Linked DNA regions of Homo sapiens. The protein of the gene in region 1 purifies or fractionates together with the protein of each later gene. This does not show direct contact. Each region holds a gene or a part of one and is shown in the gene's direction. Other genes may lie near its edges.

Region 1 (4,085 bases):
CATCTTGACTGACCAAGTAAATAAGACCCAATAATTGACCACTAGATTTGGCCACGTGGAGGTTACTGGTAATTTTGTTTGTTTGTTTTTGTAGAGACAGGGTCTCACTATGTTTTCCAGGCTGGTCTTGAACTCCTAGGCTCAAGAGATCCACCTGCCTTTAGAAAATTAAGTACTGGCTGGGTGTGGTGGCTCATGCCTGTAATCCCAGCACTTTGGGAGGATGAGGCAGGTGGATCACTTGAGGTCAGGAGTTTGAGACCAGCCTGGCTAATATGGTGAAACCCCGACTCTAGTTAAAAAAAAATACAAAACTTAGCTGGGTGTGGTGGCATGCGCCTGTAGTCCCAGCTACTTGGGACTACAAGCGATTCAAGGAGAATTGCCTGAACCCAGGAGCCAGATGCTCCAGTGAGCCGAGATCACACCACTGCACTCCAGCCTGAGTGACAAAGCAAGACTCCATCCTAAAAATAAGTAAATAAATAAAATAGAAAATTAAGTACTCAATAAATGTTCACTGCTATATTCTCTTTTTTCAGTTTTTGCTTTTATTTTTGTTTTTCTGTCACACTGGGCTGCTGCTATCCTGTTTCAGAACTATAGTGAAAATGGGTAGACTAGCTGCTCTAACAAGGGATATGTGCTTTTCCTAGAGAGCAGTCTTTGAGATGTTTGACCAGTGGCTTCCTTCCAGTGCCCCCTTGACCTGCGCCATGGGCTCACACTCCTATGCCATTTAAAAACTGTTTTATGTTTAATTTTCTATTTCCATCTGATACTTGAATCCATGTCATTTTTTTTTAACCCATTATCTTCTGTTTCCCTTCTCACTTGAATGAAGTTGAGAGAGCAGAAGCTTGGTTCATCTTCTGGCTCTCAGTCTTCCCCCACCCCAACTCCCAACTTTGCTTTTGAACTACAACCTTTTTTTTTTTTTTGAGACGGAGTTTCCATCTTGTTGCCCAGGCTGGAGTGCAATGGCACAATCTTGGCTGACCCCAACCTCTGCCTCCGGGTTCAAGCAATTCTCCTGCCTCAGCCTCCCGAGTAGCTGGGATTACAGGCATGTGCCACCACGCCCGGCTAATTTTGTTTTTGTGTGTGCGTGTTTTGTTTTGTTTTGTTTTGAGACAGAGTTTCGCTCTTGTTGCCCAGGCTGGAGTGCAGTGGCGCGATCTTGGCTCACCAAAACCTCCGCCTCCCACGCTCAAGCGATTCTCCTGCCTCAGCCTCCCGAGTAGCTGGGATTACAGGCATGTGCCACCACGCCCAGCTAATTTTGTATTTTTAGTAGAGATGGGGTTTCTTCATGTTGGTCAGGCTAGTCTCGACCTCCTGACCTCAGGTGATCCACCCACCTTGGCCTCCCAAAGTGCTGGGATCACAGGCGTGAGCCACCGCAACCAGGCGAACTACAACTTCGGATGTGATTGTTCTTTTGTTCTGTAGCTCAAGGCTAGACACGTAGGGAAAATGACGCCATTTGCTGGAGGATTGGATTGTCTTTGTTCAGGCTGCAAAACAGCTTTTGCATCAAAGTTGAGGTCTAGGAGAAGGCCACCTCCTTGAGCCCTTCTTGCTAGCTAGAGTCCATGTTCCAGCATGCCAGGACTCTCCAGTGATTTGTTTTTATCTTCCCTCCTCCTGAGCCTTCATCTTTGAGAGAGAACAAAGTGGAAATAGTGCCAAACTCTGTGTTATAAAGTATAGTGGTTTTGCCGCTTTAGCCTTGGTCGACTCACTTTACATTTCTGAGTTGCAGTTTTTCCATCTGTAAAATGGGAATAATAACTCATGAAGTTTGACTCTACAGACTATTATTGTAAGATAAGGATGCAAAAAGCTTGATAAACTAAAGCACTGTTTAGGTGTAAGGCAGTATTATTACTCTCCTCACTTCTTTATCCAGGCTGGACCAGGCTTGCAGGGAACTGGTGCCAGACTCTGTATTTTCATTTTTACTTTCCCAGGATATTCACCTATATAAGGGGCAGAACCCAGTGAGGCTCCTGACCCCATAATATCTTGTGATGGACTTCCATGGTCTTGCCATCCAGGAAGGTTCAGCAACATAGCTAAACTATTGATTTGCCAACTCTCAGCTCCTCCCAGCCATGGTTGTTATAGCTCGGTAATGTGGGTCTGAGAAGCTTTGTTGCCTTCTCTCTACTCCATTGGAGATGCCAAGGAAGAATTGTTATTTCATCTTCTCTTAAAACTTTGACTTGTCTCCTGTAGATGCTTGGCCAGGCTGTCAGAACATCCTGGGAGTTAATGAGAGAAAAATACATATAGCTCCCACTAAGTGCCTATAATGTGTCAGGCACTATAGTTAGTGCTTATCTTGTTTAAACCTCATAGCATCCTTTGAAATAGGTACTTATTATTTCCAGTTTACTGAAAAGAAAACTGAGGTTCAAAAAAGTTAAATCCCTTGTTCTAAGTCACATAGTGAGTTAAGTTGCAGAGCTAGAATTTGAACTTAATTCTATCTTATTCCAAAATTTGTTGTTCTAATGACCATACCATGAGGCCTCCTGTTACCATACAGAAAGAGGGGCCATGTGCTACATAGGAAAACTCAGGAGATTTCCATTCATATGATCTACATGAAGATCCCAACTGCGCCTATGCGATCTGGGACAAGTGGCTTTCAACTTGTCCAAGCCTTAGATACTATCTCATTAACTTGTCACCATAGGTGTTTTTTTTGGGGAGAGGGGGAGATTATTTATTTATTTATTTATTTATTTATTTATTTATTTATTTTGAGACAGGGTCTTGCTCAGTTGCCCAGCCTGGAGTGCAGTGGCAGGATTATGGCTCACTGCAACTTCCAGCTCTTGGGCTCAAGCGATCCTCCCACCTCAGCTTCCTGAGTAGCTGGGACTACAGGCCCGCGTAACCACACCCGGCCAATTTTTGTATTTTTAGTAGAGACAGGGTTTCACCATGTTGGCCAGGATGGTCTCGATCTCCTGACCTCATGATCCACCTGCCTTGGCCTCCCAGAGTGCTGGGATTACAGGCATGAGCCACCGCGCCCAGCCAGTAGATGTTATTCTTATCTCCAGTTTACATTTGAAGGGAACAGGCCTCAGTGAGTTCAGATGACTTGCCCACGGATGCAGAATAGTAAATGGCAGAGCCAGAACTCAGGTCCAGGTCTATCTAACACCTGCTTCAGTGTTCTTTCCACCATTTTTCACAGCCAGCTTCTAAGACCTGGTGTATCATTCAGCTAGATTTATAGCTCTGAGGCTGCTGGTTGGAAGCTGGCATCCTTTTCTGCTCTCTTTCTCCTCCCATACTTTCTCCCTCTTCTTAGAAACCTTACAGAGGCAATATAGGTATTTGAAATTCAAAGAAGAGATTTATGCCGTGCTTAAAATCTGCTCATACTGCCCCATTAGACACCTGGGAATCTGCCTCTCGTCTTTTGTATGGGTTTGTACTGTTACTTTGGTAGCATGATGTGGTGGGTATAGTTTTGGGAATGTTCTTTCTCAGCTCTTTTCTTTATGAGTATAATCTTGTGAGGTGGCTGTAAAGTTAGAGATGATGAATATTCAAGGGTAGCAAGTACAGGCTTATTATTTGATGGCAGTTATTTCCCCTGGCACCAGGATCTAATAGAAACCAGAATAGCAGTCAGGAGTTCTAAATCTTTTACTCCTATTCTTTGACCTTGGATATGTGAGTCACTGTTTCTAGATAGACTGGCTAGTCTTTAGGGGCGCCTTTCAGCTTTAATGTCCTGCACTTTAAAAAATGAAAGTAATAAGATACTTGTTTAAAAAAAATCAAATTAGACAGAAGTATTTGAAGGAAAAAGTGAAAGACCCATATCCTTTCCCCCATTCAGTTCATTCCCAATGTGTAACACTTATTACCAGTTTGATGTATCCTTTTCAGTGTTCTCTGTGTATACTAAATATACACAAGTATGTGTAACATACACAGTTTATATCATGTGCATATATATATAAATACACATGTATATGTTATACGCACTGGAACCTACAATACATATTATGTCTTGGTTCTTTTACTTAACATGTTTTAGCTATTTTTTTCTTGTT
Region 2 (4,085 bases), on another chromosome or scaffold:
CTGGGTGGAGATCACTTAGGTTAAATAATCAATCTTAACATTATTTTTCCAGCATAATGTTGGCTTCTGGAATGCTCTTATGTAATATATAAACCGTTACCTTTATAAAATCTGAAAAATTCTTAAACAGATGATAAATAAGCAAAAACAAAAACAGAAACAAAAACAAAACAAAAAATAAACCCAAAAAAACCACCCCAAACTAATAAAGTTTAACTTCAACAAAAGGATATTGGCTTGAGGGAGGTTGTGTTAATCTATCTTTTGAATTCATTTTGACTGTTGTAAAGATAATTATAGCTTGGCCTAAATTTGCTTCTTACTACCTGTGTGACTTTAGGTAAATCGTTTAACACTGTACTAATAAGATTGAACTGGATTTACAATTGAGGTACAGTTAAACTCTAAATTTCTTGGATTTTACATTTCCTTTATTGATCACATAAAATATTTGATTTTGATCTAGGTAGATTATTAGGTTATTTCAGCATTTGGAATTTGTTTTGTGCTTATCAGTAATAAAAAACAAGTTAAAATACTGTGTTTTTGTGTGTACACGTTTCCAATTTTTAAGTTTCTTGCATTTTTAGTGCTTGTGGATGCTCTCTACGTTTCTTATAGCATCAGTGCTTTTAAGAGTTTAGTGACTAGTCTATATATTTCATTATGAATTAGAAATTACTAGAGGTCAGTAAAGATGTTTCTCTAATTTAGTGGTTCTTCACTCTATTTGGAAGGGGGTTCATTATTTGTAGATGCCGTTTTAGTAGGTGTTTAGGAGGTGCATGAAGATAAGCATATCTTTTGATGAATGTCTGGAATTGTTACTTAAAATTTTTAAATAGAGAAAGCCCATCAGACTAACAGCAGATCTCTCTGCAGAAACCCTGTAAGCCAGAAGAGAGTGGGGACCAATATTCAACATTCTTAAAGGAAAGAATTTTCAACCTAGAATTTCATATCCAGCCAAATTAAGCTTCATAAGCGAAGGAGAAATAAAATCCTTTCCAGACAAGCAAATGCTGAGAGATTTTGTCACCACCAGGCCTGCCTTACAAGACCTCCTGAAGGAAGCCCTGAATATGGAAAGGAAAAAACAGTACAAGCCATTGCAAAAACATACCAATTGTAAAGATGATTGACACTATGAAGAAACAGCATCAACTAATGAGCAAAATAACCAGCTAGCATCATAATGACAGGATCAAATTCACACATAACAATATTAACCTTAAATGTAAATTGGCTAAATGTCCCAATTAAAAGACACAGACTGGCAAATTGGATAGTTAGAACCCACCAGTGTGCTGTATTCAGGAGACCCATCTCACATGCAAAGACACACATGAAACATTTACCAAGCAAATGGAAAGCAAAAAAAACACAAAAAAAACAAAAGGGGTTGCAATCCTAGTCTCTGATAAAACAGACTTTAAACCAACAAAGATCATAAAAGACAAGGGCATTACATAATGGTAAACGGATCAATGCAACAAGAAGAGCTAACTATATATACATGCTCCCAGGATCAGGAACACCCAGTTTCATAAAGTAAGTTCTTAGAGACCTACAAAGAGACTTAGACTCCCACACAATAATAGTGGGAGACTTTAACACCCCATTGTCAATATTAGACAAACGAGACAGAAAATTAGCAAAGATATTCAGGACTTGAACTCAGCTCTGGACCAAGTGGACCTAATAGACATCTACAGAACTCTCCACCCCAAATCAACAGAATACACATTCTTCTCAGCATCATATTGCACTTATTCTAAAATAGTAAAACACTCCTCAGCAAATGCAAAAGAAAATCATAACAGTCTCTCAGACCACAATTCTAATTGCAGTCAAATTAGAATTCAGAATTAAGAAACTCACTCAAAATTGCACAACTACATGGAAACTGAACAGCCTGCTCCAGAATGACTACTGGGTAAATGATAAAATTAAGGCAGAAGTAAATAAGTTATTTGAAACCAATGAGAACAAAGACACAACATATCAGAATCTATGGGACACAGCTAAAGCTGTGTTTAGAGGAAAATCTATAGCATTAAATGCCCACAGGAGAAAACGAGAAAGGTGTAAAATCGACATCCTAACATCACAATTAAAAGAACTGGAGAAGCAACAACAAACAAATTCTAAAGCTAGCAGAAGACAAGAAATAACTAAAATCAGAGCAGAACTGAAGGAGATAGAGACACGAAAAACCCTTAAAAAAATCAATGAATCCAGGAGCTGGTTTTTTGAAAAGATTAGAAAAACCAGACCACTAGCAATACAAACTGTTTTGTATTGGGAAGGCTGTTTCATCTACATTTTGTATTGGGAAGGCTGTTTCATCTACATTTTGTATTGGGAAGGCTGTTTCATCTACATTGAAAATCTGTTGATTAGTCACTTCCATTAATTATCTTAGCTAGATCTTCTGGATAATTTGCTATGGTTTCTGTATCAGCACTTGCTGCTTCTCCTTGCGCTTTTATCTTACGGTGATGAATTCATTCCTTAAACTGCATTAACCAGCCTCTGCTAGCTTCAAACTTTTCTTCTGAACTCTGAGCCTTCATAGAATTGAGGAGAGTTGGGTTCTTGTTCTGGATTGGGTATTGGCTTAAGGGAATGTTGTGACTGATTTGATCTTTTATCCAGATCACTAAAACATTCTCCCTATTAGCAGTAAGGCTGTTTTGCTTTCTTAACATTTGTGTGTTCACTGGCGTAGCACTTCTGATTTCTTTTGATAATATTTCCCTTGCATTCACAGCTTGGCTGTTTGGGTTAAGAAGCCTAGCTTTCTGCCTATCTCGGTTTTAGATGTGCCTTCCTCACTATGCCTACCTATTGTTTCTAGCTTTTGATTTCAAATGAGATACCTGTAACTGTTTTCATTTGCACACTTAGAGGCCATAGTAGGATTAATAGGCTTAATTTCAGTATTGTTGTGTCTCAGGGAACAGGGAGGCCTGAGGAGAGGCCTCCCTGTTCCCTGGGGATGGCTAGTTGGTGGAGCAGTCAGAACACACACATTTATTGATTCCTTTTTTTCTCTAATGTTCATTTTCTAGTTACATATTTTAGCAGTGGAAGGTATCTTAGATAAAGCCTGTTATTTTACTTAAGGTGAAAATGAGTGTTCATGGTCATGGAACACGTTTTTTTTTGATTTAGGATGATAATCCTGCCAGTAGTTTTAAAATCCATTAGAAAACCTTGCTAAGATAAGAGTAATTTTGAGGCTAGGCCAAGGAGAACAGAAAATATGGCTGGGAAAGGGAAACAAGATGAACTTGGACCAGATGTGCTCAGAGTGGAGGTTGCATTAATAGGATATCAGTTTGTCCCTTCCCAACCTTTGGATGTAGGGTAAAAGACATCTCTCAAGAATCTTTCCCTGAATTCCACCCCATCTGCTTCCTGACTAGGAAAGGCCCCTACTAAATGATCCCCTGGGACCTGCACCACTGCTTAGTAACTAACACTTTTCATATTCATAATTATTTGTTTGGTGACTGCATGCTCTTCTAAAATAAAAGCCCATGGCTAAATGGAGACTGTTTGGTTCACCCTTAATTGCCACCGTAACACAGTGCCTGTTGCCTGGTAAATAACTGCTGGTTAATAGGCTGCAGTGCTATCAGTTTAAATAAAAGGATTGGTTGATTACATTTACACAAGTGAAGAAGATAAGGGAAAGCATAAATACTTTTAGATTTGGTAATAAAGACAGTGTCTTCCCTCTTATTGATCATTTTGGTTCTTAGATTTTGATAAGCAAGACTTGTCATCCTATTTTAGCTTTATAATGTAAAGTTCTCTATTTAAATTTTTTTCAGGTCCATAGTACTGGTATGAGTTAGGAAAAAATGAAGTTAATCTCTAATAAACTGTTGAATGTAATAAGAAAATCCAAAGTCATTCCTAGTAGCAATCTCTACTGAAAGGATCTGAGGATAGACCTAGGATATTTTCATCAGAATCTCTTGTAATATTAAGATAATTCTTTTGTAGAGTTTTCCGTCTGATGAAGGTTGGCCATTTGCAAAGTATCTTGGAGCTTGTGGAAGAATGGTGGCTGT
Region 3 (4,800 bases), on another chromosome or scaffold:
CTGGTACCAAAACAGATATATAGACCAATGGAACAGAACAGAAGCCCAGAAATAACACCACACATCAACAACCACCTGATCTTTGACAAACCTGACTAAAACAACCAATGGGGAAAGGATTCCCTATTTAATAAATGGTGTTGGGAAAACTGGCTAGCCATTTGCAGAAAACTGAAACTGGACCCCTTCCTTACACCTTATACAAAAATTAACTCAACATGGATTAAGGACTTAAGACCTAAAACCATAAAAACCCTAGAAGAAAACCTAGGCAGTACCATTCAGGACATAGGCATGGGCAAAGACTTCATGACTAAAACACCAAAAGGAATAGCAACAAAAGCCAAAATTGATAAATGGGACCTAATTAAACTAATGAACTTCCACACAGCAAAAGAAACTGTCATCAGAGTGAACAGGCAACCTACAGAATGGGAGAAAATTTTTGCAATATATCCATTTGACAAAGAGCTAATGTCGAGAATCTACAAGGAACTTAAACAATTGACAAGAAAAAAACAACCCCATCAAAAATTGGGTGAAGGATATGAACAGACACTAAAAAGAAGACATTTATGCAGCCAAGAAACATATGAAAAAACGCTCATCATCACTGGTCATTAGAGAAATGCAAATCAAAACCACAATGAGGTACCATCTCATGCCAGTTAGAATGGTGATCGTTAAAAAGTCAGGAAGCAACAGATGCTGGAGAGGATGTGGAGAAATAGGAACGCTTTTACACTGTTGGTGGGAGTGTAAATTAGTTCAACCATTGTGGAAGACAGTGTGGTGATTCCTCAAGGATCTAGAACCAGAAATACCATTTGACCCAGCAATTTCATTACTGGGTATATACTCAAAAATCATTCTACTATAAAGACACATGCACACGTATGTTTACTGCAGCACTAGTCACAATAGCAAAGACTTGGAACCAACCCAAATGCCCATCAATGGTAGACTGGATAAAGAAAATGTGGCACATATACACCATGGAATACTATGCAGCCATAAAAAAGATGAGTTCATGTCCTTTGCAGGGACATGGATGAAGCTGGAAACCATCATTCTCAGCAAACTAACACAAGAACAGAAAACCAAACACCGCATGTTCTCATTCATAGGTGGGAGTTGAACAATGAGAACACATGGACACAGGGAGGGGAACATCACACACCAAGGACTATCTGGGGATCCGGGGCCAGGGGAGGGATAGCATTTGGAGAAATACCTAATGTAGATGATGGGTTGATGGGTGCAGCAAACCACCATGGCACGTGTATACCTATGTAACAAACCTGCATGTTCTGCACATGTACCCCAGAACTTAAGTAATTAAAAGAAAAAGGAAAATCAAGTGATTTTGCTTTTGAAAATTCCTGCTAATGTTTTTCATGCAACATCTCTTTCGTGTGTGGCTCAGGGGTAGAACATTGCATCAGGATTTGCTCATGGGTCTCATGTCTCTTCCTCCTCCCCCAGCAAATGACGGCTGCTCGGAAACTTTTATAAAGGAAGCGGTTGCTTTGTGGCTGATAGATCTGAAGGTGAAGAGCTTCTGGCCAAAATGATTCAGCAGCAAAACACTCCCCTCCCCAGCACCACGCAGGCAGCCCCCTAGCCCCGCCCCTGCCCCATCCCACAGTGGTTTGCAGGGTGGGGTTCCATGCTGTGGCCCTGGCACCTGCCCCTGGGCTGGGACAGCCCACTGTTCCATGCTGCCCAAGAAGGCTCAGCACAGGCACAAACCATTGCCCGGCACTGGCCCGTGCTGCCTGAGAAGGATTGGCACGGGCACAGACCACTGCCCCCACCTGCCCTGCGCCATCTACCCAAGAAGGCTCGGCACGGGCACCAACCACTGCCTCCAACTGCCCCATGCTGCCTGAGAAGGCACTGCACGGCCACCCCCAACTGCCCCGCACTGTCCCTACCCGGGCAGCCATGCGAGCGGCTGGAACTCTGCTGGCCTTCTGCTGCCTGGTCTTGAGCACCACTGGGGGCCCTTCCCCAGGTAAGTGGCGTTCTCCCCTGTCCGCTCCCCGGGGGTCTCTCCCTGAGATTGGCCACTGGTGCCTTGGGTCTTCCCCAGGGCACTTTCCTAGCTTGGAGCCCCCACAGGACCATGCGGTGGTGAGAGGTGCTGGGAGTGGTGAGAGGGGCAAGGGGCTCCATCTGGCTGCAGCTACCTTTGGGGGTAGCAGGCTACAGGGATGAAGGGTTTGGGGGCTGCCCCAGAAGGCTAGGGGCAAGGGAAGCATCTTCTATTCTCTGGCTCTTCACAGAGGTCTGAGAAAGGTCTAAGTAAGGCAGGTCTCCCGCAGCTCCTCTGCGGGACGGAGGCGACAGGGCAGCCACATGCCTGTGGTTAGCCGCTTCTATCTGATGGCTTGTCATTCCTTCCTGCTGGCTGTTGTCCTGTGACTTGGCTCCAGGGACCCTAACGATCAGACTCTTTCACCCTTCCTGAAATCCACTCCCTGAGGGTCAGCACTCAGGGGGAGGGGGGACAGGGAGGAAAGAGCCACTGCCTGTGCACTGGGAAACTGAGACACAGCCAGGCTAGGTGATTTGCCCAAGTCACACAGCCAGGGACAACCTGCTCTCCCCCAAAGGGAACTGGGCCATGGCCTCCCTGGCACAGGAATCAGACCAGGATACTGATGGGGACTTGGGAGGCCCCCACCTCATTTAACCAACCAGGAAGCTGGCACCAGAGGGCTGAGGTGACCCGCTCAAGTCATATGACCCCCACCCAGCAGACAGGGACAGAAGGGGGCTGGAGCCTGGCCAAAGGGGCCCAGGTGGGGGCTGTGCAGCAGGACCACTGACAAGAGGATGGCTCCAGAGCACCCAAGGGGTTCTTGGAGGGTTCTCACCTCCTCCTGGTGAGTCAGGATACTGAGGACTCAGTGATGCTGGGGGACACTGTGTCGAGCTCCCAGGCCTGGCCTAGGGCGGACGCTGCGACTGAGCAGCCAAGGGGACACGGCAGGCTGGAGGAGGGGCCGGGGGCAGCTTCTGCTCTCACTGATGGGAACATGCCACCGCCACCAGCTCTGGGTAGTGCTCAGCGAACATGGAGCTGACCCATGGCTGGCAGAAGGCTGGGGACAGCATACCCGGCCCTGCCTCCCAGCTTGGGAGCCTTCTTAGCTCACGCAAGGAGCCCTCCACCTGCTTCCCAGCCTCACAGGGGCCTCTCCTCCTGGCCCTGTCCTGATGCAGTGCTGCCTGCCTGCTGCCATTCTGTGCCCTGCCCCTTCGTGTCTCCAAGGTCCAAGGGGGAAGCAGGGAAGAGAGGCAAGTTCACTCCAGAGAAGTGGCTCGTTCTCACACCTCAGAAAAGGCTCTCCTGGAGGGGACATGGAGCCAGCTGTCCTAGCGTGTCCTGGGATCTAATTAAACCTACTGACTGCTGAGGGGTTTCAGAGCTCTGCTCATCTCACGGAGCAGGCTAGGGACTATAACAGGGTGGCGTGGGAGCCGATGTGCTGGGCAGCTGGCAACGTCATTTTCCTGGGTGGTGTTCCCGGCCCCTCGCTGGTATGTAATGCTGCACCAAGCCTTTCCCTCCATTCTCAGCAGACCTGCTGTCAGCCACCAAACCCCAGAGAGAAGCTCCAGAGCCCACGTTCACACACACAGAGCGGGCCCTCAGCCTCAGTCCTACCATCCATGAAATGGGAAGATAACTGCACCCCGTCTCCGGCCCTGGGGAGGCTGAACAGAGGTGGCTCGGGGAAGGCACAGGCATGGAGGCACATGGGGCATGGGGTGCTCTCCGCCAGCCTCAGCCCCCTGCTCTGTCTAGTGCAGGCCCTTCTGCCACTGTGCTGGTGACAGCCCCCAGCACCCTGCCCAGGCGCTGTGATCATTTCTGGTGCTTCCAGCAAGGGCCTTCAGTCTTCGGCTGTATAGGGAGGGTGCTGGGAGGCCCCCAGTCTAGCAGCAAAAAAGAGATGGGAACCTGGGCCCCAGACACAAGCATGCGTCCTGCCCCCACTCCACAACTCCTACAGCCCCTCCGCTGCCTCCTCTGAGAATAAATTACAGAGCCTTCCTCATGACTGAGGGGGGTAGGGGGCGGGGAAGCAACAGGGACCCCAAGGGTGGTGCCGTCTGAGCATCTGGCCTCTCTCCACACCCATGCACTGAACTGCACAGACCATAGCGCTGAGCCCCTCAGGGCACCTCTCCTCCCTGAGGCTTTCAGAACCTAGGAAATTGCCACACTGGCTTCCGCCACCCTTTTGAAAAGGGCTGTTTCTTTCTCAATCTGATGGGCATCTCTTCTGGGAAGCTCTGCCAGGTGCCATGTCATCCTCTGCCCCCTCCACTCTAGCTGCAACGGCCCATCTGCCTGGACAGGGGCCCTGGGGTCAGGGAGCCATTTCAGCTTCCCTCTGCAAGGTGATGTCAGTCCTTACTTCCCAGTAGCAGAGAGACCACTTGCAGCCCGGGGACCTCCTGCCTCCTGGGGAGCACTGGGAGCTGCCGCAGGCTGAGCCACCGTCTACGTGGCAAGATTTGTTTTTCCCAATGGGGGCATTCATTTGCCCTGAGACCCCTGCTGTGGCCATGTGCATTTTGATATATTGATAATGATTACAGTTTTGCACATCATTTATTGACAAGTGCTTCGTGTATGTTGCCTCATATATTCTCACTGTCGTCAGCATCCTCATTTTACAGGTGAGGACACGGAGGCTCAGAGAGGTTAGGCAGCTTGCCTGAGATCATACAGCCAGTGAGAAGCAGAGCTGGAATTCAAACTCCGGGTGTGTCCCAGTGGGT
Region 4 (4,085 bases), on another chromosome or scaffold:
CTGAGATACACTGATAAATGAGACCTGACCTGCTCGCTGAAGGAGCTCACAGTACACCTTCCATCTGACCTCACCCTTCCTATTCTGATTCCCTTCTGCTCTCTAGAGGGAACTGTCTTGGCAGTCAGGCTCCATTATACTCCCCTCTTATTTGAGACCGTCTTGCTACAGAGTTTTCTATCTCCACTGTCATCTGAAATTGTTCTTTCTTTGTTGTGACATACCATGTAAAAGCTGCCATTCTCTGAGAATTTTGTCCCACACTAGTCTCTCATTTATCAAAATTTTTTGTTCTTATGTCATTAATGAATCAATAAATTATTTTTCCTTTAGTATTTTATGAAACCGACGAGGTGTGGTGGCTCACGCCTGTAATCACAGCACTTTGGGAGGCCGAGGTGGGCGGATCACCTGAGGTCAGGAGTTCGAGACCAGCCTGGCCAACATGGTGAAACCCCATCTCTACTAAAAATACAAAAATTAGCCAGGTGTGGTGGTAATCCCAGCTATGCAGGAGGCTGAGGCAGGAGAATTACTTGAACGTGGGAGGCAGAGGTTGCAGTGAGCCGAGATTGCGCCCCTACACTCCACTCTGGATGACACAGCAAGACTCTGTCACAAAAATAAATAAATAAGAAATATATTTTATGAAACAGTATTCATTTTGTGTCCATTGAGATTATATCATGCTTGATGGTAGGGATTCTTTTATACTTTATTCCAATAATGCCTGTACTCCCAAAAAAGATTGGCACACATTCCTGGTTTGTCAAGAATACATTTTGGCGACTGGGCGCGGTGGCTCACGCCTGTAATCCCAGCACTTTGGGAGGCCAAGGCGGGTGGATCACAAGGTCAGGAGATCGAGACCATCTTGGCTAACATGGTGAAACCCCGTCTCTACTAAAAATACAAAAAATTAGCCGGGCGTGGTGGCGGGTGCCTGTAGTCCCAGCTACTCAGGAGGCTGAAGCAGGAGAATGGCGTGAACCCAGGAGGCGGAGCTTGCAGTGAGCCGATATTGTACCGCTGCACTCCAACCTGGGTGACAGAGTGAGAATCCATCTCAAAAAAAAAAAAAAAAAAGAGAATACATTTTGGCTAGTTTGTTTTTTGAGTGATGAAGAATAATGAGATATAATAAAATGGCCATATTGCATTGGTAGCAGGACTGGAAAGACTATACTCATTGTTGTGAATATAGATTTGCAGTGGTCCTAATTCAGTATGTTGTATTTCTGTTTATATACTGTGACTAAGAGATTCTGGTTTTTAAAATATTTGTATCCAACACATACTTGTTTGAAAAGTAAATCTGAAGTGCTGTGTGCTTCAGAATCTTCTGATGTTGTTTAAAGTTTAGAAATATTGATAAAAGGTAAAGTGAAAAGCTTATAGTATTTAAATATATTCCAGTACAGATGGTTGGTAGCTAAGGAGTGTTTTGTTTCTTTAAATAACTATGTATAAATCTATGTATTGTGTACCAATTTTGCATGATAGACTAATACAGGACCATTTTTGGAAAGATTATAGTTAAGATGTGTTTGAGATGTACTTAGGAACATTGTAGGAAATAAATCAATTTGGCTGACAGGAAACTGGAAATGTAGAATTTTTAAAAGCTTGTTGAGAGTATCTTGAGTGCTTATTTGGGAACACATTATCACTTTATTTCAGGAAATACACATTTATAGCTTTCACAAAGGGCTATTTAAAAGTGATGCTGTATCATTAGAGAGAAAAGGTGGAGATAGGCATATGTAAGTGTTTGGACACCTGTAGAAGAAAATCCTGATGGAATTGTCATTTCCTCAGGTCTGTTTGCCTTTTCCAACAATAAAATGAGATGTATATCCTCATATCCTATATGCATATTGGAAACAAAAGCTTAGATGGCTGGCAGTGATACCATGCAACTAAAGAAAAAGTTATTTCTTTAGAGTTTATGGTTGTTTTGAGGATGTTTTTTATATTATAAAATAAATTGTACTAAATGATAATTTCTTCTTCCCATTTTAAATGTGTTAGGTTGAACAATATGTCTTTAGATACCTTGCTGTCAGTTGGCATAAACAGGCAGTATACCTGTATACTATTTTGCCTCTAAAAGATTTTCTCAGCAATGAGAGCACTTGTGTCTCTGCTGATTACCTTACAAAGTTAGACAATACTAAAAACATTTAAGAAGTCCTTCCAGATTATTTTTTTGACATGAGGTAAAGTATTTACTAGAAGTTTTTTAACTTATGAAATAACATTTTCTAATGTCCTCACCTTATGAATTGTGATATTTGTAATCTAGTTAGCTGAACAATTCTAGACCAGTCCTTGGGAGTCTGATCTGGGTTGGATGATAGATGGACTCGATTCCCCACTCCCTCTCTGTATTGCAGGGAGATTCACATGAAGGTGAAATTAAGAAATTGAATGCTATTTGTATTTTTTCCAAAAACAGGAAAAAATGAATTCCATTCATATTGGTAAATTTTTGTTTTATTGTTTTTCCAATCTAGATTAAAGAGTCTATTGTTGGGGAAATCAGACGGGAAATTGTAAGTGGACTTTTGGCAGCAGTATCTTCAAGTAAAGCGTCTAATTCTAAGCAAGATTATCATTAAACAGAAATTATAGGTAAATTTTTCTGAGTTTCTTTGTTGAGCTAAATGTAAATAGTAACTGGCATTTTATTCTTTGTTTTGTTAGTATACAGGTTTGGTTCTCTAGTTAAATTTTGAGTTTTAGAATGTATGTAATATGTTATTTTACAATGTGAAAATTTCACACAAGCCTATTTGAAGTGTAAGTCAAATCCCATAATACAAATCTCCAAGGAATTACTTATATTGGGTCATTCTACTGAAATTTCATTATAGTAATAAATCCTGGAATTGGACCTTCAAACCTGAATCTTATTTTGATTATAATGGTATTTCAGATGTATAGTTTTAAAGAACAAGATTTTGTGAATTAATCACAACTTCCTTTTTTTTTTTTTTGAGACAGAGTCTCGCTCTGTCGCCCAGGCTGGAGTGCAGTGGCGGGATCTCGGCTCACTGCAAGCTCCGCCTCCCGGGTTCACGCCATTCTCCTGCCTCAGCCTCCCAAGTAGCTGGGACTACAGGCGCCAGCCACTACGCCCGGCTAATTTTTTGTATTTTTTAGTAGAGACGGGGTTTCACCGTTTTAGCCGGGATGGTCTCGATCTCCTGACCTCGTGATCCGCCCGCCTCGGCCTCCCAAAGTGCTGGGATTACAGGCGTGAGCCACCGCGCCCGGCCGAATTAATCACAACTTCTAAGTATCTTTCCTAATTATTTTTATCTTTTAAAGAAACATATCCCATAGATTCATTTCTAATAATAATTTATTTCAAAAAACTCTTTTATATGTCTGTCTTAGTAAAACGAATTACTTTCATTTTATCTCGTAGCTCTAATTACATTAAAAAATTTTTTTGTAGAGATGGGGTCTTGCTATGTTGCCCACGCTAGTCTTAAACTCCTAGCCTCAAGCGATCCTCCTGCTTTAGCTCTAACTTCATTTTATATAATATATATTAATAATAATTCTTGGTGAATGCAAAAAGAAAGAATAAGTTGAGTAGAATAGAACTAAAAATATTCATTGAATAAGACATGAGAAACAAATGTAATTTGAAAAGTATAATATACAATTTCAGATATAGGAAATTGGAAAGTATTTTAATAAATTATGTCACAAAGCAATTAATAGGAATTATTTTTTTTAAAGCCAGGGATATAAGAATTAACTCTCAGGAAGATGTATAGAGATTACAGGATAATCATGTTTCTGTGTATATATATTTGCATAAAATTCTCATCTTCCTTTAAAGAAGCTTTTAATAACAGTATTTGAAAGAGGTTTAAAACTGACTTCTCTTTTCTTTTTTAAGGTTGGCATGGATCCTATTAGCTGTGTAATACTGGAATTATCAATGATATGCACTGGTGGAGGTGTTATTTGTGCTTTAGAAGATACTTGCTGTTGAGCTGGGCTACTGTATACAGTGTACAATGTGTATTTCTTCAACCATATATTTTAAAAAGACGTACATAGAAACT
Region 5 (4,085 bases), on another chromosome or scaffold:
ACCTTGGCCTCCCAAAGTGCTGGGATTACAGGAGTGAGCCACTGCACCCGGCCAGAAAATTTCAAATGCATATAAAATTACATAAAATAGTATAATGATCCTTCCTGCACCTGTCATGCAGTCTAAATAATTATCAACTCATGGGCAGTATCTGCCATCCATCATTTATTTTGGACCCAATCTCAGATATCATTCCATCCATAAGCAATTCAGTACCTTTCTCTAAAAGATAGGCATTCTTTTTGTTTTGTTTTGTTTTTTTTGAGATGAAGTCTCGCTCTGTCGCCCAGGCTGGAGTGCAGTGGCGCGATCTCGGCTCACTGCAAGCTCCGCCTCCCGGGTTCACAAAGATAGGCATTCTTTAAAACAAAACAAAACAAAAAACTGGCCAGGCACAGTGGCACATATCTGTAATCTCAGCACTTTGGGAGGCCAGGCAGGAGGATCGCTTGAGCCCAGGAGTTCAATACCAGCCTGGGCAACATAGCGAGATCCTGTCTCTATATTTAAAAAAAAAACAAAAACCCATAACCAGAATGCTATTATTGTGCCTAAAACATTTAATAATAATTCCTCTATTCTCAGCAGTTTTTTCTGTAGTTTATTCCAATCAGGATCCAAATAATGTCCCTAAATTGCAGTGACCGTATTCTTATGGTATTCTTTGGCATGTTCTGTCCTCTGTATTTCCAATAGATTAATAGGTCTAGAGGCCTGAGAAGGCTCAGATTTGAGTTGGGGCAAGAATACTTCATAAGTGGTGCTGTTTACTGTCAGGAGGCAAATAATGTCTGGTTGTCACTTTTTGTCATATTAACAGCCATTGATGGTCATTATCTCGATCCATTATTTCATTAGGGGTTGTAAAATGGTGATAGTCTAATCCTGGCTTTATCCTTCATTTATTAGGCAGAATGATTCTATAAGAGAAACTTACCCTCATCAACTATTTAGATACCCTGAAATATAGTTTATATTGTAAGAGCAGGATAATTGCTTGATTTTTTTTGTTTTAATGACTTTTCAAATAATGAATTGGATTTTTAAAAAGTATTATTAACCCAAGGATTTAAACATATTTGACATATTTTAATCCATTACACATAAAATTATTCATAATGTTCAAATTGTTGGGACTTTTTAGGCTGTTTTATTTCTGTTGTCTTTCTACAACATCAGAACTGTATTTCATTGTTCCCTTTAGTGAATTTTTTTTTTTTTGAGACCGTGTCTCACCCTGTCACCCAGGCTGGAATGCAGTGGCACGATCACAGCTCACTACAACCTCAACCTTCCAGGATCAAGCCATCCTCCCACCTCTGCCCCCACTTTCCCCATACCTGGGACTACAGGCGTGTGCCACCACACCTGGCTAATTTTTGTATTTTTTGTAGAGACACGGTTTCGTCATGTTGCCCAGGGCTAGTTTCTAACCCCTGGGCTCAAGTGACCCACCCGCCTCAGTCTTCCAATGTGCTGGGATTACAGGGGTGAAACACTACACCCAGCCTCCTTTAGTGATAATTTTTATAGCAAAAGATGATTTGGTTAAATAAGTTAGAATACTTTTTAAAAAAATTCTTAAGAGGCAGTGTCTCGCTCTGTTGCCCAGACTGGAGTGCAGTGGGCTAATCATAGCTCATTGCAGCCTCGAACTCCTGGGCTCAAGTGATCCTCCCGCCTCAGCCTCCTGAATAGCTTAGACTACAGATGTGTGCCATCACACCCAGCTACTTTTTTTTTTTTTTAATAGAGACGGGGTCTTGCTCTGTTTCCCAGGTTCAGTTAGAAGCAGATTTTTTTAAGTAAAATTATCTTGTAAGTTTGAATAAGCTGGGAATTCAGATCATTTTATTGTCACCTTTCTTTGCCTTGAAAAATTAAGATGTATAGTCACCAGTTCAAAATTTAAAAAGAAAAGAAAAATTAAGATGCCCTCTAACATAGGAAGATTAAGTGAATTTGTATCAAATTAAAATCCCTATAGGAAGAAATATAAGAAAAAGAGGTCTAAGAAGAGCAGAAAAGAGTCCAGTGATTCAAGCTCTAAAGAATCCCAAGAAGAGTTTCTGGAAAATCCCTGGAAGGATCGAACAAGTAGGTTCTTCTGATAGACTAACTCAGAACAGATGAAACATTAAAGTAACCAATTAGTCAGAATGTGAATGTGTTTCTTAATATCTTTCATGCAGAGGCTGAAGAACCATCAGATTTAATTGGCCCAGAGGCTCCAAAAACACTTACCTCTCAAGATGATAAACCTTTGAAGTAAGCAGCAGTGTGTTTATAATATCTAAAGTACCTACCAAAAAGTCTGGTTCTAACTTACCTTGCCAAGCTTATCTGACTCTATTCCCTTATTTCTACTCCAGGTTCCAGCTGAGCTGGACTACTAAATATTCCCTGGGCTTAATGTGCACTTTGCAACTTTTATGCCATGTTCAGCTTATTTCTTCATCCAGTATGCCTTCCCTTCTTTTCCCTGCCCTCTGTTTTCTTCCCTATCGCCAGTTTCTTCCTGTTAAAATCCTTACTATCCTTCGAAGCCCTTTTCAAAAGGAGATGCATATGCTGATTCCCAATACTTCCCCTCCACAAGTAGGTGTGATTTCTGTTTCTCTTTGATCCTCACAGAATTTTTTATTCCTTTTTTTCTCTTTTTTCTTTTTTTACCAGCAGAATTTTTTTTTCTTTTTGTGAGACGGAGTCTCGCTCTGTTGCCCAGGCTGGAGTTTAGTGGCGTGATCTTGGCTCACTGCAACCTCTGCCTCCCAGGTTCAAGCGATTCTCCTGCCTCAGCCTCCTGAGTAACTGGGATTACAGGCACGCGCCACCACACTCAGCTAATTTTTTTTTGTATTTTCAGTAGAGATACGGTTTTACCATGTTGGTCAGGCTGGTCTCAAATTCCTGACCTCATGATCCACCTGCCTCAGCCTCCCAAAGTGCTGGGATTACAGGCGTGAGCCACCGCACCTGGTCTAGAATTTTTTTTTTGTTTGTTTTGTTTTGTTTTTTTGAGATGGAGTCTCACTCTGTCTCCCAGGCTGAAGCACAGTGGTGTGATTGAGTTTCACTCTGTTGCCCAGGCTGGAGTGCAGTGGCATGATCTTGGCTCACTGCAACCTCCACCTCCCAGATTCAAGTGATTCTCCTGCCTCAGCCTCCCAAGTAGCCAGGATTACAGGCGCCTGCCGCCACGCCCGGACTAATTTTTGTATTTTTAGTAGAGCTGGGGTTTCGCCATGTTGGCCAGTATGGTCTCGAACTCCTGATCTCAAGTGATCTGCCCGCCTCAACCTCCAAAAATGCTGAGATTACAGGCGTCAGCCACTGCACCCAGCCTACTTTGTTTTTTTTTTTTGTTTTGTTTTGTTTTGTTTTTTGAGACAAAGCCTTACTCTGTCGCCCAGGCTGGAGTGCAGTGACACGATCTCGGCTCACTGCAACCTCTGCCTCCCAGGTTCAAGTGATTCTCCTGCCTCAGCCTCCTGAGTAGCTGGGACTACAAGCATGCACCACCATGCCCGGCTAATTTTGTATTTTTAGTAGAGACGGGGTTTCGCTATGTTGGCCAGGCTGCTCTCAAGCTCCTGATCTCAGGTGATCCTCCCGCCTCAGCCTCCCAAAGTGTTCAGATTGTAGGCGTGAGCCACTGTGCCTGGCATACTTTGGATTTTTTAAGGGAAAAAGGGAAAGGGAATCAGCTGGAGCCAGAACCAGTAATGACAATACCTGTAGGGATAAATTAATCCATAATTGTAAACTGTGAATCTATACTCACAGCAGTTCTTTTCTTTCAAAATATTTCTGCATTTCTGGGTTAGTTGTATAGGTCATAGTGCAATGCAATGTTTAATACACTAATTAGGATAAAGCAATTCACATTGAGCTTCCTAGCACACTACTGCTGAGCACTGTTATTCCTACTCTTGTTTGAGAGAAAATGTGGGGATTTTTGGTGCTCTCTTTAGATTATAAGCTTTTAATATTAAGATGATTTAATGGACCTTTTCTGAATTCTGAATTACTTTGTAGCTATGGCCATGCTCTGTTACCTGGTGAAGGTGCAGCTATGGCTGAAT
Region 6 (4,085 bases), on another chromosome or scaffold:
CTCTGATTCCCATCGGTCAGTCTCCGTTTTTCAGTGCTTTTCCTAATGGTGTAACCAGGGTAGAAGCTACTTCCTGGCACCACACCAGGGACAGGGCAAGCTGGGTGTTAGGTTTTTACCACCAGCAGGCAAGCTCCTGCTGTGCCTGGCCAGCTTTTAGGCACAGGCAGGTGTCAGACAGGTTCGTCTGGACCGTGGACTTGGCAGCTGGCTCCCTTGGACATTGTGGAACGTGGAAGAGAAGCTGGAAGATTTGGGCTTTGGTCCAGAGTCCACCACTTGTTTATTGACCATAAGAAAGTTTCCGTTCCTCTTACCCTGAGTTTCTTCAGCTGGAAAATGGGAGCCATGATTTTCCCACCTAGCAGAGGGCCTTAGACAGTGAAGTGAGCTGACTAGGAAGTCCTTCCCCTGGACCTGGCTAAAAGTTCATCCACTCCATGTGGTCTCTCCCTTTCCTGAGTAGGGCTTGGTCTCCCCGTCTCGAAAGTGAAGCTAAACCTCTCAGGCTGGTGTGACACAGCATTAGAGATAAAAACCTTGTGTAACTGAAGTGCTGGACATATTTAAGGTGTGACTGTTGAGCTGTTAGCAGTCCTGCGTCCCCTGACCTGCACCGATGGGTGGCGTGGGATGTTGAAGAGCAGTTCAGCAGCAGTGGCCACCCCGCTGGGAGAAGGGGCTCCTGCCCATGACCAGGGCCCCTTGCCTTTCCCCACAGATCCTGGCTGCAGCTCTGACCGAATGTCACCGGAAATCCAGTGCCCAAGGCAAGCCTCTGGCCCTGAAGGTCTTTGTGGCTGGCAGAAACCGTCTGGAGAATGATGGCGCCACTGCCTTGGCAGAAGCTTTTAGGGTGAGTGGTTTCTGTCCATCCTGCCCCTGCAGCCTTGAGGTGCACTCGGCATAGTAGGCTGACAGTTCTGGATGCTAATCCCAGGGCTGGCACTCAACCAAGAGACCTGGGGCGTCACGTGCCCTCTCCAAGCCTGTTAACCCATCCGAAAATGAGCCAGAATTCCTGTCGTGCATTTCTGGAAAGGTGTGTGACTTTCCGGAAAGGTGTGTGACTGGCTCCCACTGGTGAGCCAGCCCCTATGGGGCTTCAGGCCAGGCAGGCCACTCTGACCAAGGAGTGTCATCTGCCAGGCTCAGAAGTGGTGAAGTGAGATGGTGCGAGTGCTGACAGTAGCCTGGCCCAGCCACTGGTGTGGGGCACAGAGAAGGAACATACCAGACCTCCAAGACAGGGAGATAGGCAGGGGCAGCCGCAGGGCTCAGGTGCCAAATGACGTGCTCTCAGGTGACCTTATCCCCACTCCTCTTCCACTCTCCTCTCCCCATCCCCGCAGGACATTGCTGAGTCCCCGATCGTGAGTGCCAGCAGAAGGCTACACTTGCCCCTAACAGGACTGAAAACTTTGGGGTCTGTCTCCCTCCTCTCTTTCCTGTTTTTTTTGAGGCAGAGTCTCATTCTGTCACCCATGCTGGAGTGCAGTGCGTGATCTTGGCTCACTGCAGTCTCCGCCTCCCAGGTTCAAGCAGTTCTGCCTCAGCCTCCCGAGTAGCTGGAATTACGGGCACCCGCCACCACACCCGGCTAATTTTTGTATTTTTATTAGAGACGGGGTTTTACCATGTTGGCCAGGTGGTCTCGAACTCCTGACCTCAAGTGATCTGCCCGCCTGGGCCTCCCAAAGTGCTGGGATTACAGGCGTGAGCCACCACGTCCGGCCCCTCTTCTCTTAATTTAAATGTTTTCTTCAGCAAACAGTATCCTAGGAGCATTGCTCATACGGGCCGGAATGTCCTGGCTGCCCATCGAGGCTGTCTGTAGATACCCTTTGCCTGCTTCAGTGCCAAGTGAACATCGCAGAGATCTGCCTTGTGTCTCCCTGCACCCCTGGCTGCAGGGGAGCTCCTGCTGCCTCCTCTGGAGCTGGTGGGGGCCTCACTGCCATCCTTGGATCCCTCCCTGCCGTCAGCCTGCTGTCCTCAGTGCACTGGGAGGAGGGGGTGCGCTGTGGTTGTGTTGAGCCTTCATAGGTGTCCTCTGGTGGGCTTAGAATGGGGGTTCTTAATCCCCCCCAGTATGTGGATAGAATTCAGGGGTCTGTGAACATGGATGAGGAAAAAATAACATTATTATTTATTACTAATGTAGCTAAAATATGTAGTGTGACCTTTGATTATAAATGTAGACAATAAACCTCACAGCATTAGAAAGGCCTGTGACTACCCACATAACAAACAAGCACATGTAGTCCCTGAACCCAAAAAAAAAAAAAATTTTATTGAGGCAGGGTCTCGCTCTGTTGCCCAGGCTGGAGTACAACGGTGCAATCTCAGCCCACTGCAGTTGAAGCTTCCCAGGCTCAAGTGATCCTCCCACCTCAGCCTCCCGATTAGCTGGGACTACAGGTGTGCACCACCATGCCCACCCAGTTAATTTTTGTATTTTAGTAGAGATGGGGTTTCACCATGTTAGCCAGGCTGGTCTCAAACTCCTGACCTCAGGTAATCCACTCGCCTTGGCCTCCTAAAGTGCTGGGATTATAGGCATAAGCCACTGCGCCCAGCTTAAAATTTTTAAAAAAATAAAAAGAAAATCTTGTGACTTTATCCCCAGTGGAAATCACAGGTATTTCATATGAAGTTATAGTTACTGCTGATATATAGAAATATTTCTCACTACATCAAAATTACAGTAATAGTGGACCCACCCCTAGATCTTGTTATTTGGTGCATTAACAAGAAGTTTGTATATCACTACAGCATGCGTTTGGAGTTTTTTCCTAAATGTTTTGATAACTGTTCCAACTGAGTTGATTTCCTTTGTAATTCTGTGTAATTTATCTTAAAATTTTAAAAAAACATTTTTTGAGGAGGGGACCCAGGGGCTTCACCAGACTGCCTGAAGGGTTCATGGCACAGAAAATACTAAGAAGGCCTGACCTGGAGTGTGCCCAGGTTGGCCTTCCTGTATTTATTTGTGGACCACCCGCTCCCCCCATTGCCCTGTGCTGCACTGAGCACCTGAAGACAGCAGAAGATTCCTTGGCACAGTTAAGCCAGGCCAACCCTCAGTCCTGGGTCACAGTGGAGACTGGGACATGGCCCTCTCCTCCAAAGCTCAGGGGCCGATGGGATGCAGACGGAATATAGGCTTTGAATGTAGGCAGGATGAGGACCACCGTGATAGAGGAGGGACCAGGTGCTCCGGGAGCACAGAGGAACGCACACTGGATCGTGGCTGGGGGAATCCAGGAAGCCTTCCTGGGAGAGGAGGTGACCAAAACAAGAGCCCTAGAACTCATATGAGTTAGCCTGTCAAGAAAATGCTGAATGGCTGGGTGTGGTATCTCACGTCTGTAATCCCAGCACTTTGAGAGGCCGAGGAAGCTGGATCGCCTGAGGTCAGGAGTTCAAGACCAGCCTGGCCAACATGGTGAAACCTCCATCTCTACTAAAAATACAAAATTAGTCGGGTGTGGTGGCGCACGCCTGTAATCTCAGCTACTCAGGAGGCTGAGGCAGGAGAATCACTTGAACCTGGGAGGCAGAGGTTGCGATGAGCCAAGATCATGCCATCACACTCCAGCCTGGGCGACGGAACGAGACTCCGTCTCAAAAAAGGAAAAAAAAAGAAAAAAGAAAAAGAAAATAAGGAGGCAGAGAGAATGGGTATCAAAAGGCCAGGCTGTGATAGGGCTGCATGGGCCAGGGAACACCCTCCTCATCCCTAGAGAAGGACGCCATGTCGAAGGGGTTATGTTGTGTAGGTGGGTGGGCTAGGAGGGCCCCTAAGAAAGAAAGGTCACATGGAGCTATGTCATCCAGAGAAGGGGCATGAGTGCCTGCCCACCACAGCCAGGGTCCCCACTGTGCTGAGGACACCAGACTGAGAACAAGAAATCGACCTGCTGGATCTAGAGCTCTGTGACCCTGGGCAAGTCACTTCGCCTCTTTGATCCCTAGTCTTTTCTCTGGTGGGGATCCTATCCCAGGCAGTAGGCCTCCCTCAGGAGGTTGTGGAAAGAGTTAGATGCAGCCATGCCCCAAAATCCCACAGACAGGCCCCTGCC
Region 7 (4,851 bases), on another chromosome or scaffold:
TCTCATGACCTTACGAGACCCTCAAAATAGTCCCATTTCACAATGGAGGAAACAGTCTCATAGAGAAGAAGCAATTTTCCCAAGGCTGACAGCTGTCAGTATAGGAGCAGGAATCTGAGCCGTGTCTGTCGGCCTCCACAGGCTTCCTCCTGCACTCCTGCGCTTCTTCCCAGACAGGGCACAATTAGGTTTTCAGGAGGGTGAAGGAGGTACTCCAGAAAGAGGACACGGCACAAAAAGGCCTGGGAGCTGAAGAGAGGTGGAGCCAAGGCCAAGAGACGCCAGCAACCTGAGGAGGGGCCACGCGGTACTGAGGGCAGGTGTGGAGTCTGGGGACCATGGGCCTGCAGAGATGCAGCCAGCTTTGCTGTCCCAGCACGTGGCAGGAAGCAGGAGCTGATGCGGCCCCAGGTCTTGGCATTGGGCCCGAGCACCGCACAGAGGGTCATTGTCCATGGGCAGTGGGCATGGCCAGCTGGGAAGCCAAGCAGGGGCATTTGCCTCTCTGGAGATGTGCCCAAGGGATCGGCAGGGTCCTCCCAAGAGCTCTCTCAAAACACCTCACCTTTAGGTATTCAGGGCTTTTGGTGTGTTTGCAAACATGGCAGGACAGCAAACGCTCTTCACCTTGTTCTTCTTGTCAAAAAGCAGGAGGAAGAGACCAGCCAGGGCCTGGCCACGTACTTTGTGACCTCAGAACACTTACTGCCCCTGACTTGTCTGCTGCAGATGGAGACAGGATTCAACAATGGCCATCCCAGCTCTAAACCACAATTCCATTCTTCTAGACAAAAACTGGGTAGCAAGGATAATTCCCCAGATGACATCAAAAGGCCATGTTGGTGTCACCACCACCTCCAGTGCTAAATTGAAGTCTCAGGGGAAGGACAGTGTGGCGGTTAAGAGGGTCCGGTCTGGACTGATGATCGGGTTCAGGTCCCAAAGCTGGAATCCCTGGTCATGTGACCTTGAGCAAGTCACTCGCCTCTCTGAGCCTCAGGTGCCCTCTGTAACATTAACGCTGCTGATGCCCACCTCTGGGTGACTGTGCAGGCTGCGTGAGCCAAGACCTGGGCCCAGGTGGTGGATGACAGCGTCCTGCTGGGCTCTGACATTTGTCCTTTAGGTTCATGGTCATCCCTCCTTATTCTTTTGGTCCACAAGTGCTCATGGAGATTCCTAAAGATGCAGACAAGGTAGAGCAGATTTTAATTGCTGCGGAATGAATGAATGAATGAAATGAAAGCCCATGCTAAGCACTGTGTAGGCATGCACTTCAACTCATGCTCTTAACAACCTATGAGGAGGAGCTACTATTATCCCCATGCTATAGATGAGGTCATTGGGGCCCAGAGAGGTGAAGTACCTTGCCCAAGGGCACACAGCAAAGCAGTGGCAAAAATAGGATTCAAATCTATTCTCCTGGGTGAATTAATTGATGGAGATGTGTATCTTTGATGTATTTAGGAATAAGGGGTGGGTAAGGCTACTCCTTCCTTTTCCCAAATTGATTATCTGGATTAAACAATTGTTGTAATCCCTCTACAAAGGCTCATCCTATTATAAGCAATAATAATATTAATGGCAACGGCCACTCACATTTATGGAGTGCTTATTCTGCTATATGCACTGTGCTTCTCTCAGCCTGGACCTTCCTTTCTCCAAACCTCAGGAAGCTGGAGTCCCAAGGCTGCCTCCGGGCGGGGCTGTGGTTCAGCAGAAGCCACAAATATTTACCTTGGAGACCTCGGCCTGGTCTGAGGCCTCTGCCTAAAGACAAAGCCTGTGCTGGGGTGTGCAGGATATAAGGTTGGACTTCCAGACCCACTGCCCGGGAGAGGAGAGGAGCGGGCCGAGGACTCCAGCGTGCCCAGGTAAAAGTAGGGAAGGGGCTGAAAGCCAAGGTTGCCAGGAAGGTTCTGAGCTAGAGATACCTGTTGGGGTCAGGTCAGGAGCACAGGGGAGGCTCGCCCTCAGGGAAGGGCCCTCGGTGAGTCAGGATCCGCTGAGGGTCAGGGCCAGGTGTAGAGAGATGCCCAGCTCCCTCGCCCAGAGGACCAAAGGGCAGTGACGAAGGGATGGGGCTGGCTGAGTGTTTTCCTGACCTCTTCCTAGTGACATAAACCCACTCTGCACATACCAGTTGCTCTGTCCCAGCTGTGCTGCGGTGGTGCTGGGACAAAAGAAGCATGAGACGCAGACTCTGTCCCTCAAAGAACTCCCAGTGCAGGACAATGTGGTGCCCAAGGAAGACCCAGGGACATGGGAGTGGAGGACAGTCAAAGAAGGGATCCTGGAAGAGGTGATGTGTTGGTTGCAAAGCCGAGTAGAAGGCGATTGGGCAAAGGAGGAGAGAAAGATATTCCACGAAGGGGAACTAGCAGAAGCAAAGGCTGGGAGAGGAGGTGCCATATGACAGGGGCGTGTGTGGTGCCTGGATCTGGGGGAGGAGAGTCTTTTCCACAGGAGGGAAACAGGGATGCTACCATCCTCGTGGGTCCCTGGGTTTCTCTGATCCAAAGAGGACTGAGCAGTGTGTACAGATAATGCAGGACAGACAGAGTCAAGGTATTTGCAAGGAAAATATGGAGTGGGGCCACAGGGGTGCCTGGATGCCGGGGTTCAGCTCTGTCTTCTGGCTTTGGCTGCAAGGTGTCTCCTTCTGACTCCAATATTAGTAATAATACCTGTCATAATTATCGTGGAAGCTACCATCTACTGAACGCTTGGCCATGCCAGGCCACAAATAGATTGTCTCATTTAATCTTCCCAAAAAGCCTATGACATAAGTACTATAATTATTCCCCATTTTATAGATGAGTAAATGGAGGCTCAGAAAGGGTAAGTCACTTGTCAAAGATCACAGAGCAAGTGGTAGAGGCAGGCCTCCAACTAGGGTTCATCTGGCTGCCAAGCCAATAATATTTTCCCCTCCACCTTCAGGCCTCCTAACACTAACCTTTTCAGCTTAGCAGGCTCAGATTTCCAATTCTTTCGGGGCTTCCAGAGGCTATGCAATTATTCAGCAGCCATTTATTAAGCACCTGGTCTATGCCAACCACTATACTGGATGCCAGGGACACAGCAGGGAGCAGGCAGACCCAGCCCTCCCTCCCAGAGCTCACAGCTTGGTCAGGGAAGCAGAGGCTGAATCATTATTGCAAGGGTCTCAGAAGAGCTCACACTGCTCCAGGGCACAGGAGACACATGTCATCCGGATGCCACATTTGTCTTTGGCAAAAAGAAATCCACATGCTGAACCAAGCGAGGGGCTCAGATCTCTGCAGCGTCTCCCCTCCCTCCAAGCAGGACAGTCCACAGGGGCAGGAGCTTCCATGGGGGGCTGGCAGACAGAGCCAGGGTGCAAGCTGGAGAGCTCAGGACTGGACTACAGATGTTGATGCCACACCCCTGTGGAGGGAGGGGACAGAGCAGCCAAGGGGCCAGAATACCCCCAAGCTCCTCTCCCTGGCATGAGCCACAGGGCCCTTTCTCTCTCTCTCTTTCTCTCTCTCTCTCTCTGCCCTTCTTTTCCTGGCTCCAAGAAGCCATTCAGTCCCTCCCCAGCCCCCTTAGTATTGCAGATTAAGCAAAGAGCTTTTTCACAACTTTGAGTCCTACCTGGCTCCTCATTTCCTTCCTGCCTCCAACCTTCATGTCTTGGGCCCCAGGACAACATTTCTCCAAGTGTGGTCCAGGTTCCCTGTCTGCAGGACAGGGGAAGCTTTATAGGGAAAGTGACAAATCTTGGCAGGGTTTTAAAGGATGAATAGGAGTTCATCAGGGAGATATGGGAGGAGAAAAGCATTCCAGGAAGCAAGGAAGAGCAAGAGCAAAGGCACGGACACAGGAGAGAACACAGTATGTTCTGAGACCTTCCAACTGCTTGGAACTTGCTAGAACAAGGGGAGAGAAAGCAGGAGGTGAGGTCAGCAGACGGTGAACCATAGAGGGTTTTAAGTGTCAGACTGAGGGGTGGGAGACACGGGAAGCAGAAGTTCTTTGTTCTGAGCATTGTTGCTGGATTTTCTGTAAGAAAATAGCTAATACAGGCTGGGCGCGGTGGCTCACGCCTGTAATCCCAGCACTTTGGGAGGCCGAGGTGGGCAGATCACGAGGTCAGGAGATCGAGACCATCCTGGCTAACACGGTGAAACCCCGTCTCTACTAAAAATACAAAAAAAAAAATTAGCCTGGCGCGGTGGTGGGTGTCTGTAGTCCCAACTACTCAGGAGGCTGAGGCAGGAGAATGGTGTGAACTCAGGAGGTGGAGCTTGCAGTGAGCCGAGATGGCACCACTGCACTCCAGCCTGGGTGACAGAGCGAGACTCTGTCTCAAAAAAAAAAAAAAAGAAAGAAAATAGCTAATACATTCCAAGTGCTTACCATGTGAAAGACACCGTGCTAAATGCTTTCCAGATATTAACTCACTTAATCCCTCAACTCTGGGAAGCTGGGGTCATTATCCCCATTTGTCTGATAAGAAAACTGAGGCACAAAGAGGTTACGTTGATTGCCTAAGGCTACACAGCTAGCCCAGGCAGTTAAACACTGCACTCAACAGCCTCTCCTGGACACCGTGCCCCAGGTCACCGGGCATCATGGGCCTGCCCTTGGCCCCTCTGCCTCAGGTCCCTCTGTGCTCACCCCAGGTCTGGCATCCTGCACTTGCTGCCCTCTGACACCTGGGAAGATGGCCGGCCCGTGGACCTTCACCCTTCTCTGTGGTTTGCTGGCAGCCACCTTGATCCAAGCCACCCTCAGTCCCACTGCAGTTCTCATCCTCGGCCCAAAAGTCATCAAAGAAAGTAAGTTTTGTCCCTCCGGAGCTGGCTGCCATAAGACAAGGGG

What was found.
Region 2: the proteins of ZCCHC17 (region 1) and DIPK2A purify together in Homo sapiens (co-immunoprecipitation; one study listed by IntAct). This does not show direct contact.
Region 3: the proteins of ZCCHC17 (region 1) and CST7 purify together in Homo sapiens (affinity purification with mass spectrometry; one large-scale study listed by BioGRID and IntAct). This does not show direct contact.
Region 4: the proteins of ZCCHC17 (region 1) and ITPRID2 purify together in Homo sapiens (affinity purification with mass spectrometry; 2 studies listed by BioGRID and IntAct, with this or other methods). This does not show direct contact.
Region 5: the proteins of ZCCHC17 (region 1) and NKAP purify together in Homo sapiens (affinity purification with mass spectrometry; one large-scale study listed by BioGRID and IntAct). This does not show direct contact.
Region 6: the proteins of ZCCHC17 (region 1) and RANGAP1 purify together in Homo sapiens (affinity purification with mass spectrometry; one large-scale study listed by BioGRID and IntAct). This does not show direct contact.
Region 7: the proteins of ZCCHC17 (region 1) and BPIFB1 purify together in Homo sapiens (affinity purification with mass spectrometry; 2 studies listed by BioGRID and IntAct, with this or other methods). This does not show direct contact.

Annotation. Positions count from the first base shown.
Region 1 is NC_000001.11:31,359,057-31,363,141, forward strand, and holds part of ZCCHC17 (zinc finger CCHC domain-containing protein 17), read left to right. Parts: intron 1-531; exon of another isoform or gene 532-1,741; coding exon of another isoform or gene 1,742-1,774; intron 1,775-4,085.
Region 2 is NC_000003.12:143,981,526-143,985,610, forward strand, and holds part of DIPK2A (divergent protein kinase domain 2A isoform a precursor), read left to right. Parts: intron 1-4,017; coding exon 4,018-4,085. UniProt on the Homo sapiens protein: May play a role in cardiomyocyte proliferation through paracrine signaling and activation of the PPI3K-AKT-CDK7 signaling cascade.
Region 3 is NC_000020.11:24,947,559-24,952,358, forward strand, and holds the start of CST7 (cystatin-F precursor), read left to right. Parts: upstream 1-1,710; 5' UTR 1,711-1,947; coding exon 1,948-2,017; intron 2,018-4,800. UniProt on the Homo sapiens protein: Inhibits papain and cathepsin L but with affinities lower than other cystatins. May play a role in immune regulation through inhibition of a unique target in the hematopoietic system.
Region 4 is NC_000002.12:181,925,645-181,929,729, forward strand, and holds part of ITPRID2 (protein ITPRID2), read left to right. Parts: intron 1-2,516; coding exon 2,517-2,621; 3' UTR 2,622-2,634; intron 2,635-3,916; coding exon of another isoform or gene 3,917-4,012; 3' UTR 4,013-4,085.
Region 5 is NC_000023.11:119,930,119-119,934,203, reverse strand, and holds part of NKAP (NF-kappa-B-activating protein), read left to right. Parts: intron 1-1,987; coding exon 1,988-2,097; intron 2,098-2,192; coding exon 2,193-2,268; intron 2,269-4,038; coding exon 4,039-4,085. UniProt on the Homo sapiens protein: Acts as a transcriptional repressor. Plays a role as a transcriptional corepressor of the Notch-mediated signaling required for T-cell development. Also involved in the TNF and IL-1 induced NF-kappa-B activation.
Region 6 is NC_000022.11:41,258,217-41,262,301, reverse strand, and holds part of RANGAP1 (ran GTPase-activating protein 1), read left to right. Parts: intron 1-721; coding exon 722-856; intron 857-4,085. UniProt on the Homo sapiens protein: GTPase activator for RAN. Converts cytoplasmic GTP-bound RAN to GDP-bound RAN, which is essential for RAN-mediated nuclear import and export. Mediates dissociation of cargo from nuclear export complexes containing XPO1, RAN and RANBP2 after nuclear export.
Region 7 is NC_000020.11:33,281,381-33,286,231, forward strand, and holds the start of BPIFB1 (BPI fold-containing family B member 1 precursor), read left to right. Parts: upstream 1-1,833; 5' UTR 1,834-1,874; intron 1,875-4,652; 5' UTR 4,653-4,693; coding exon 4,694-4,808; intron 4,809-4,851. UniProt on the Homo sapiens protein: May play a role in innate immunity in mouth, nose and lungs. Binds bacterial lipopolysaccharide (LPS) and modulates the cellular responses to LPS.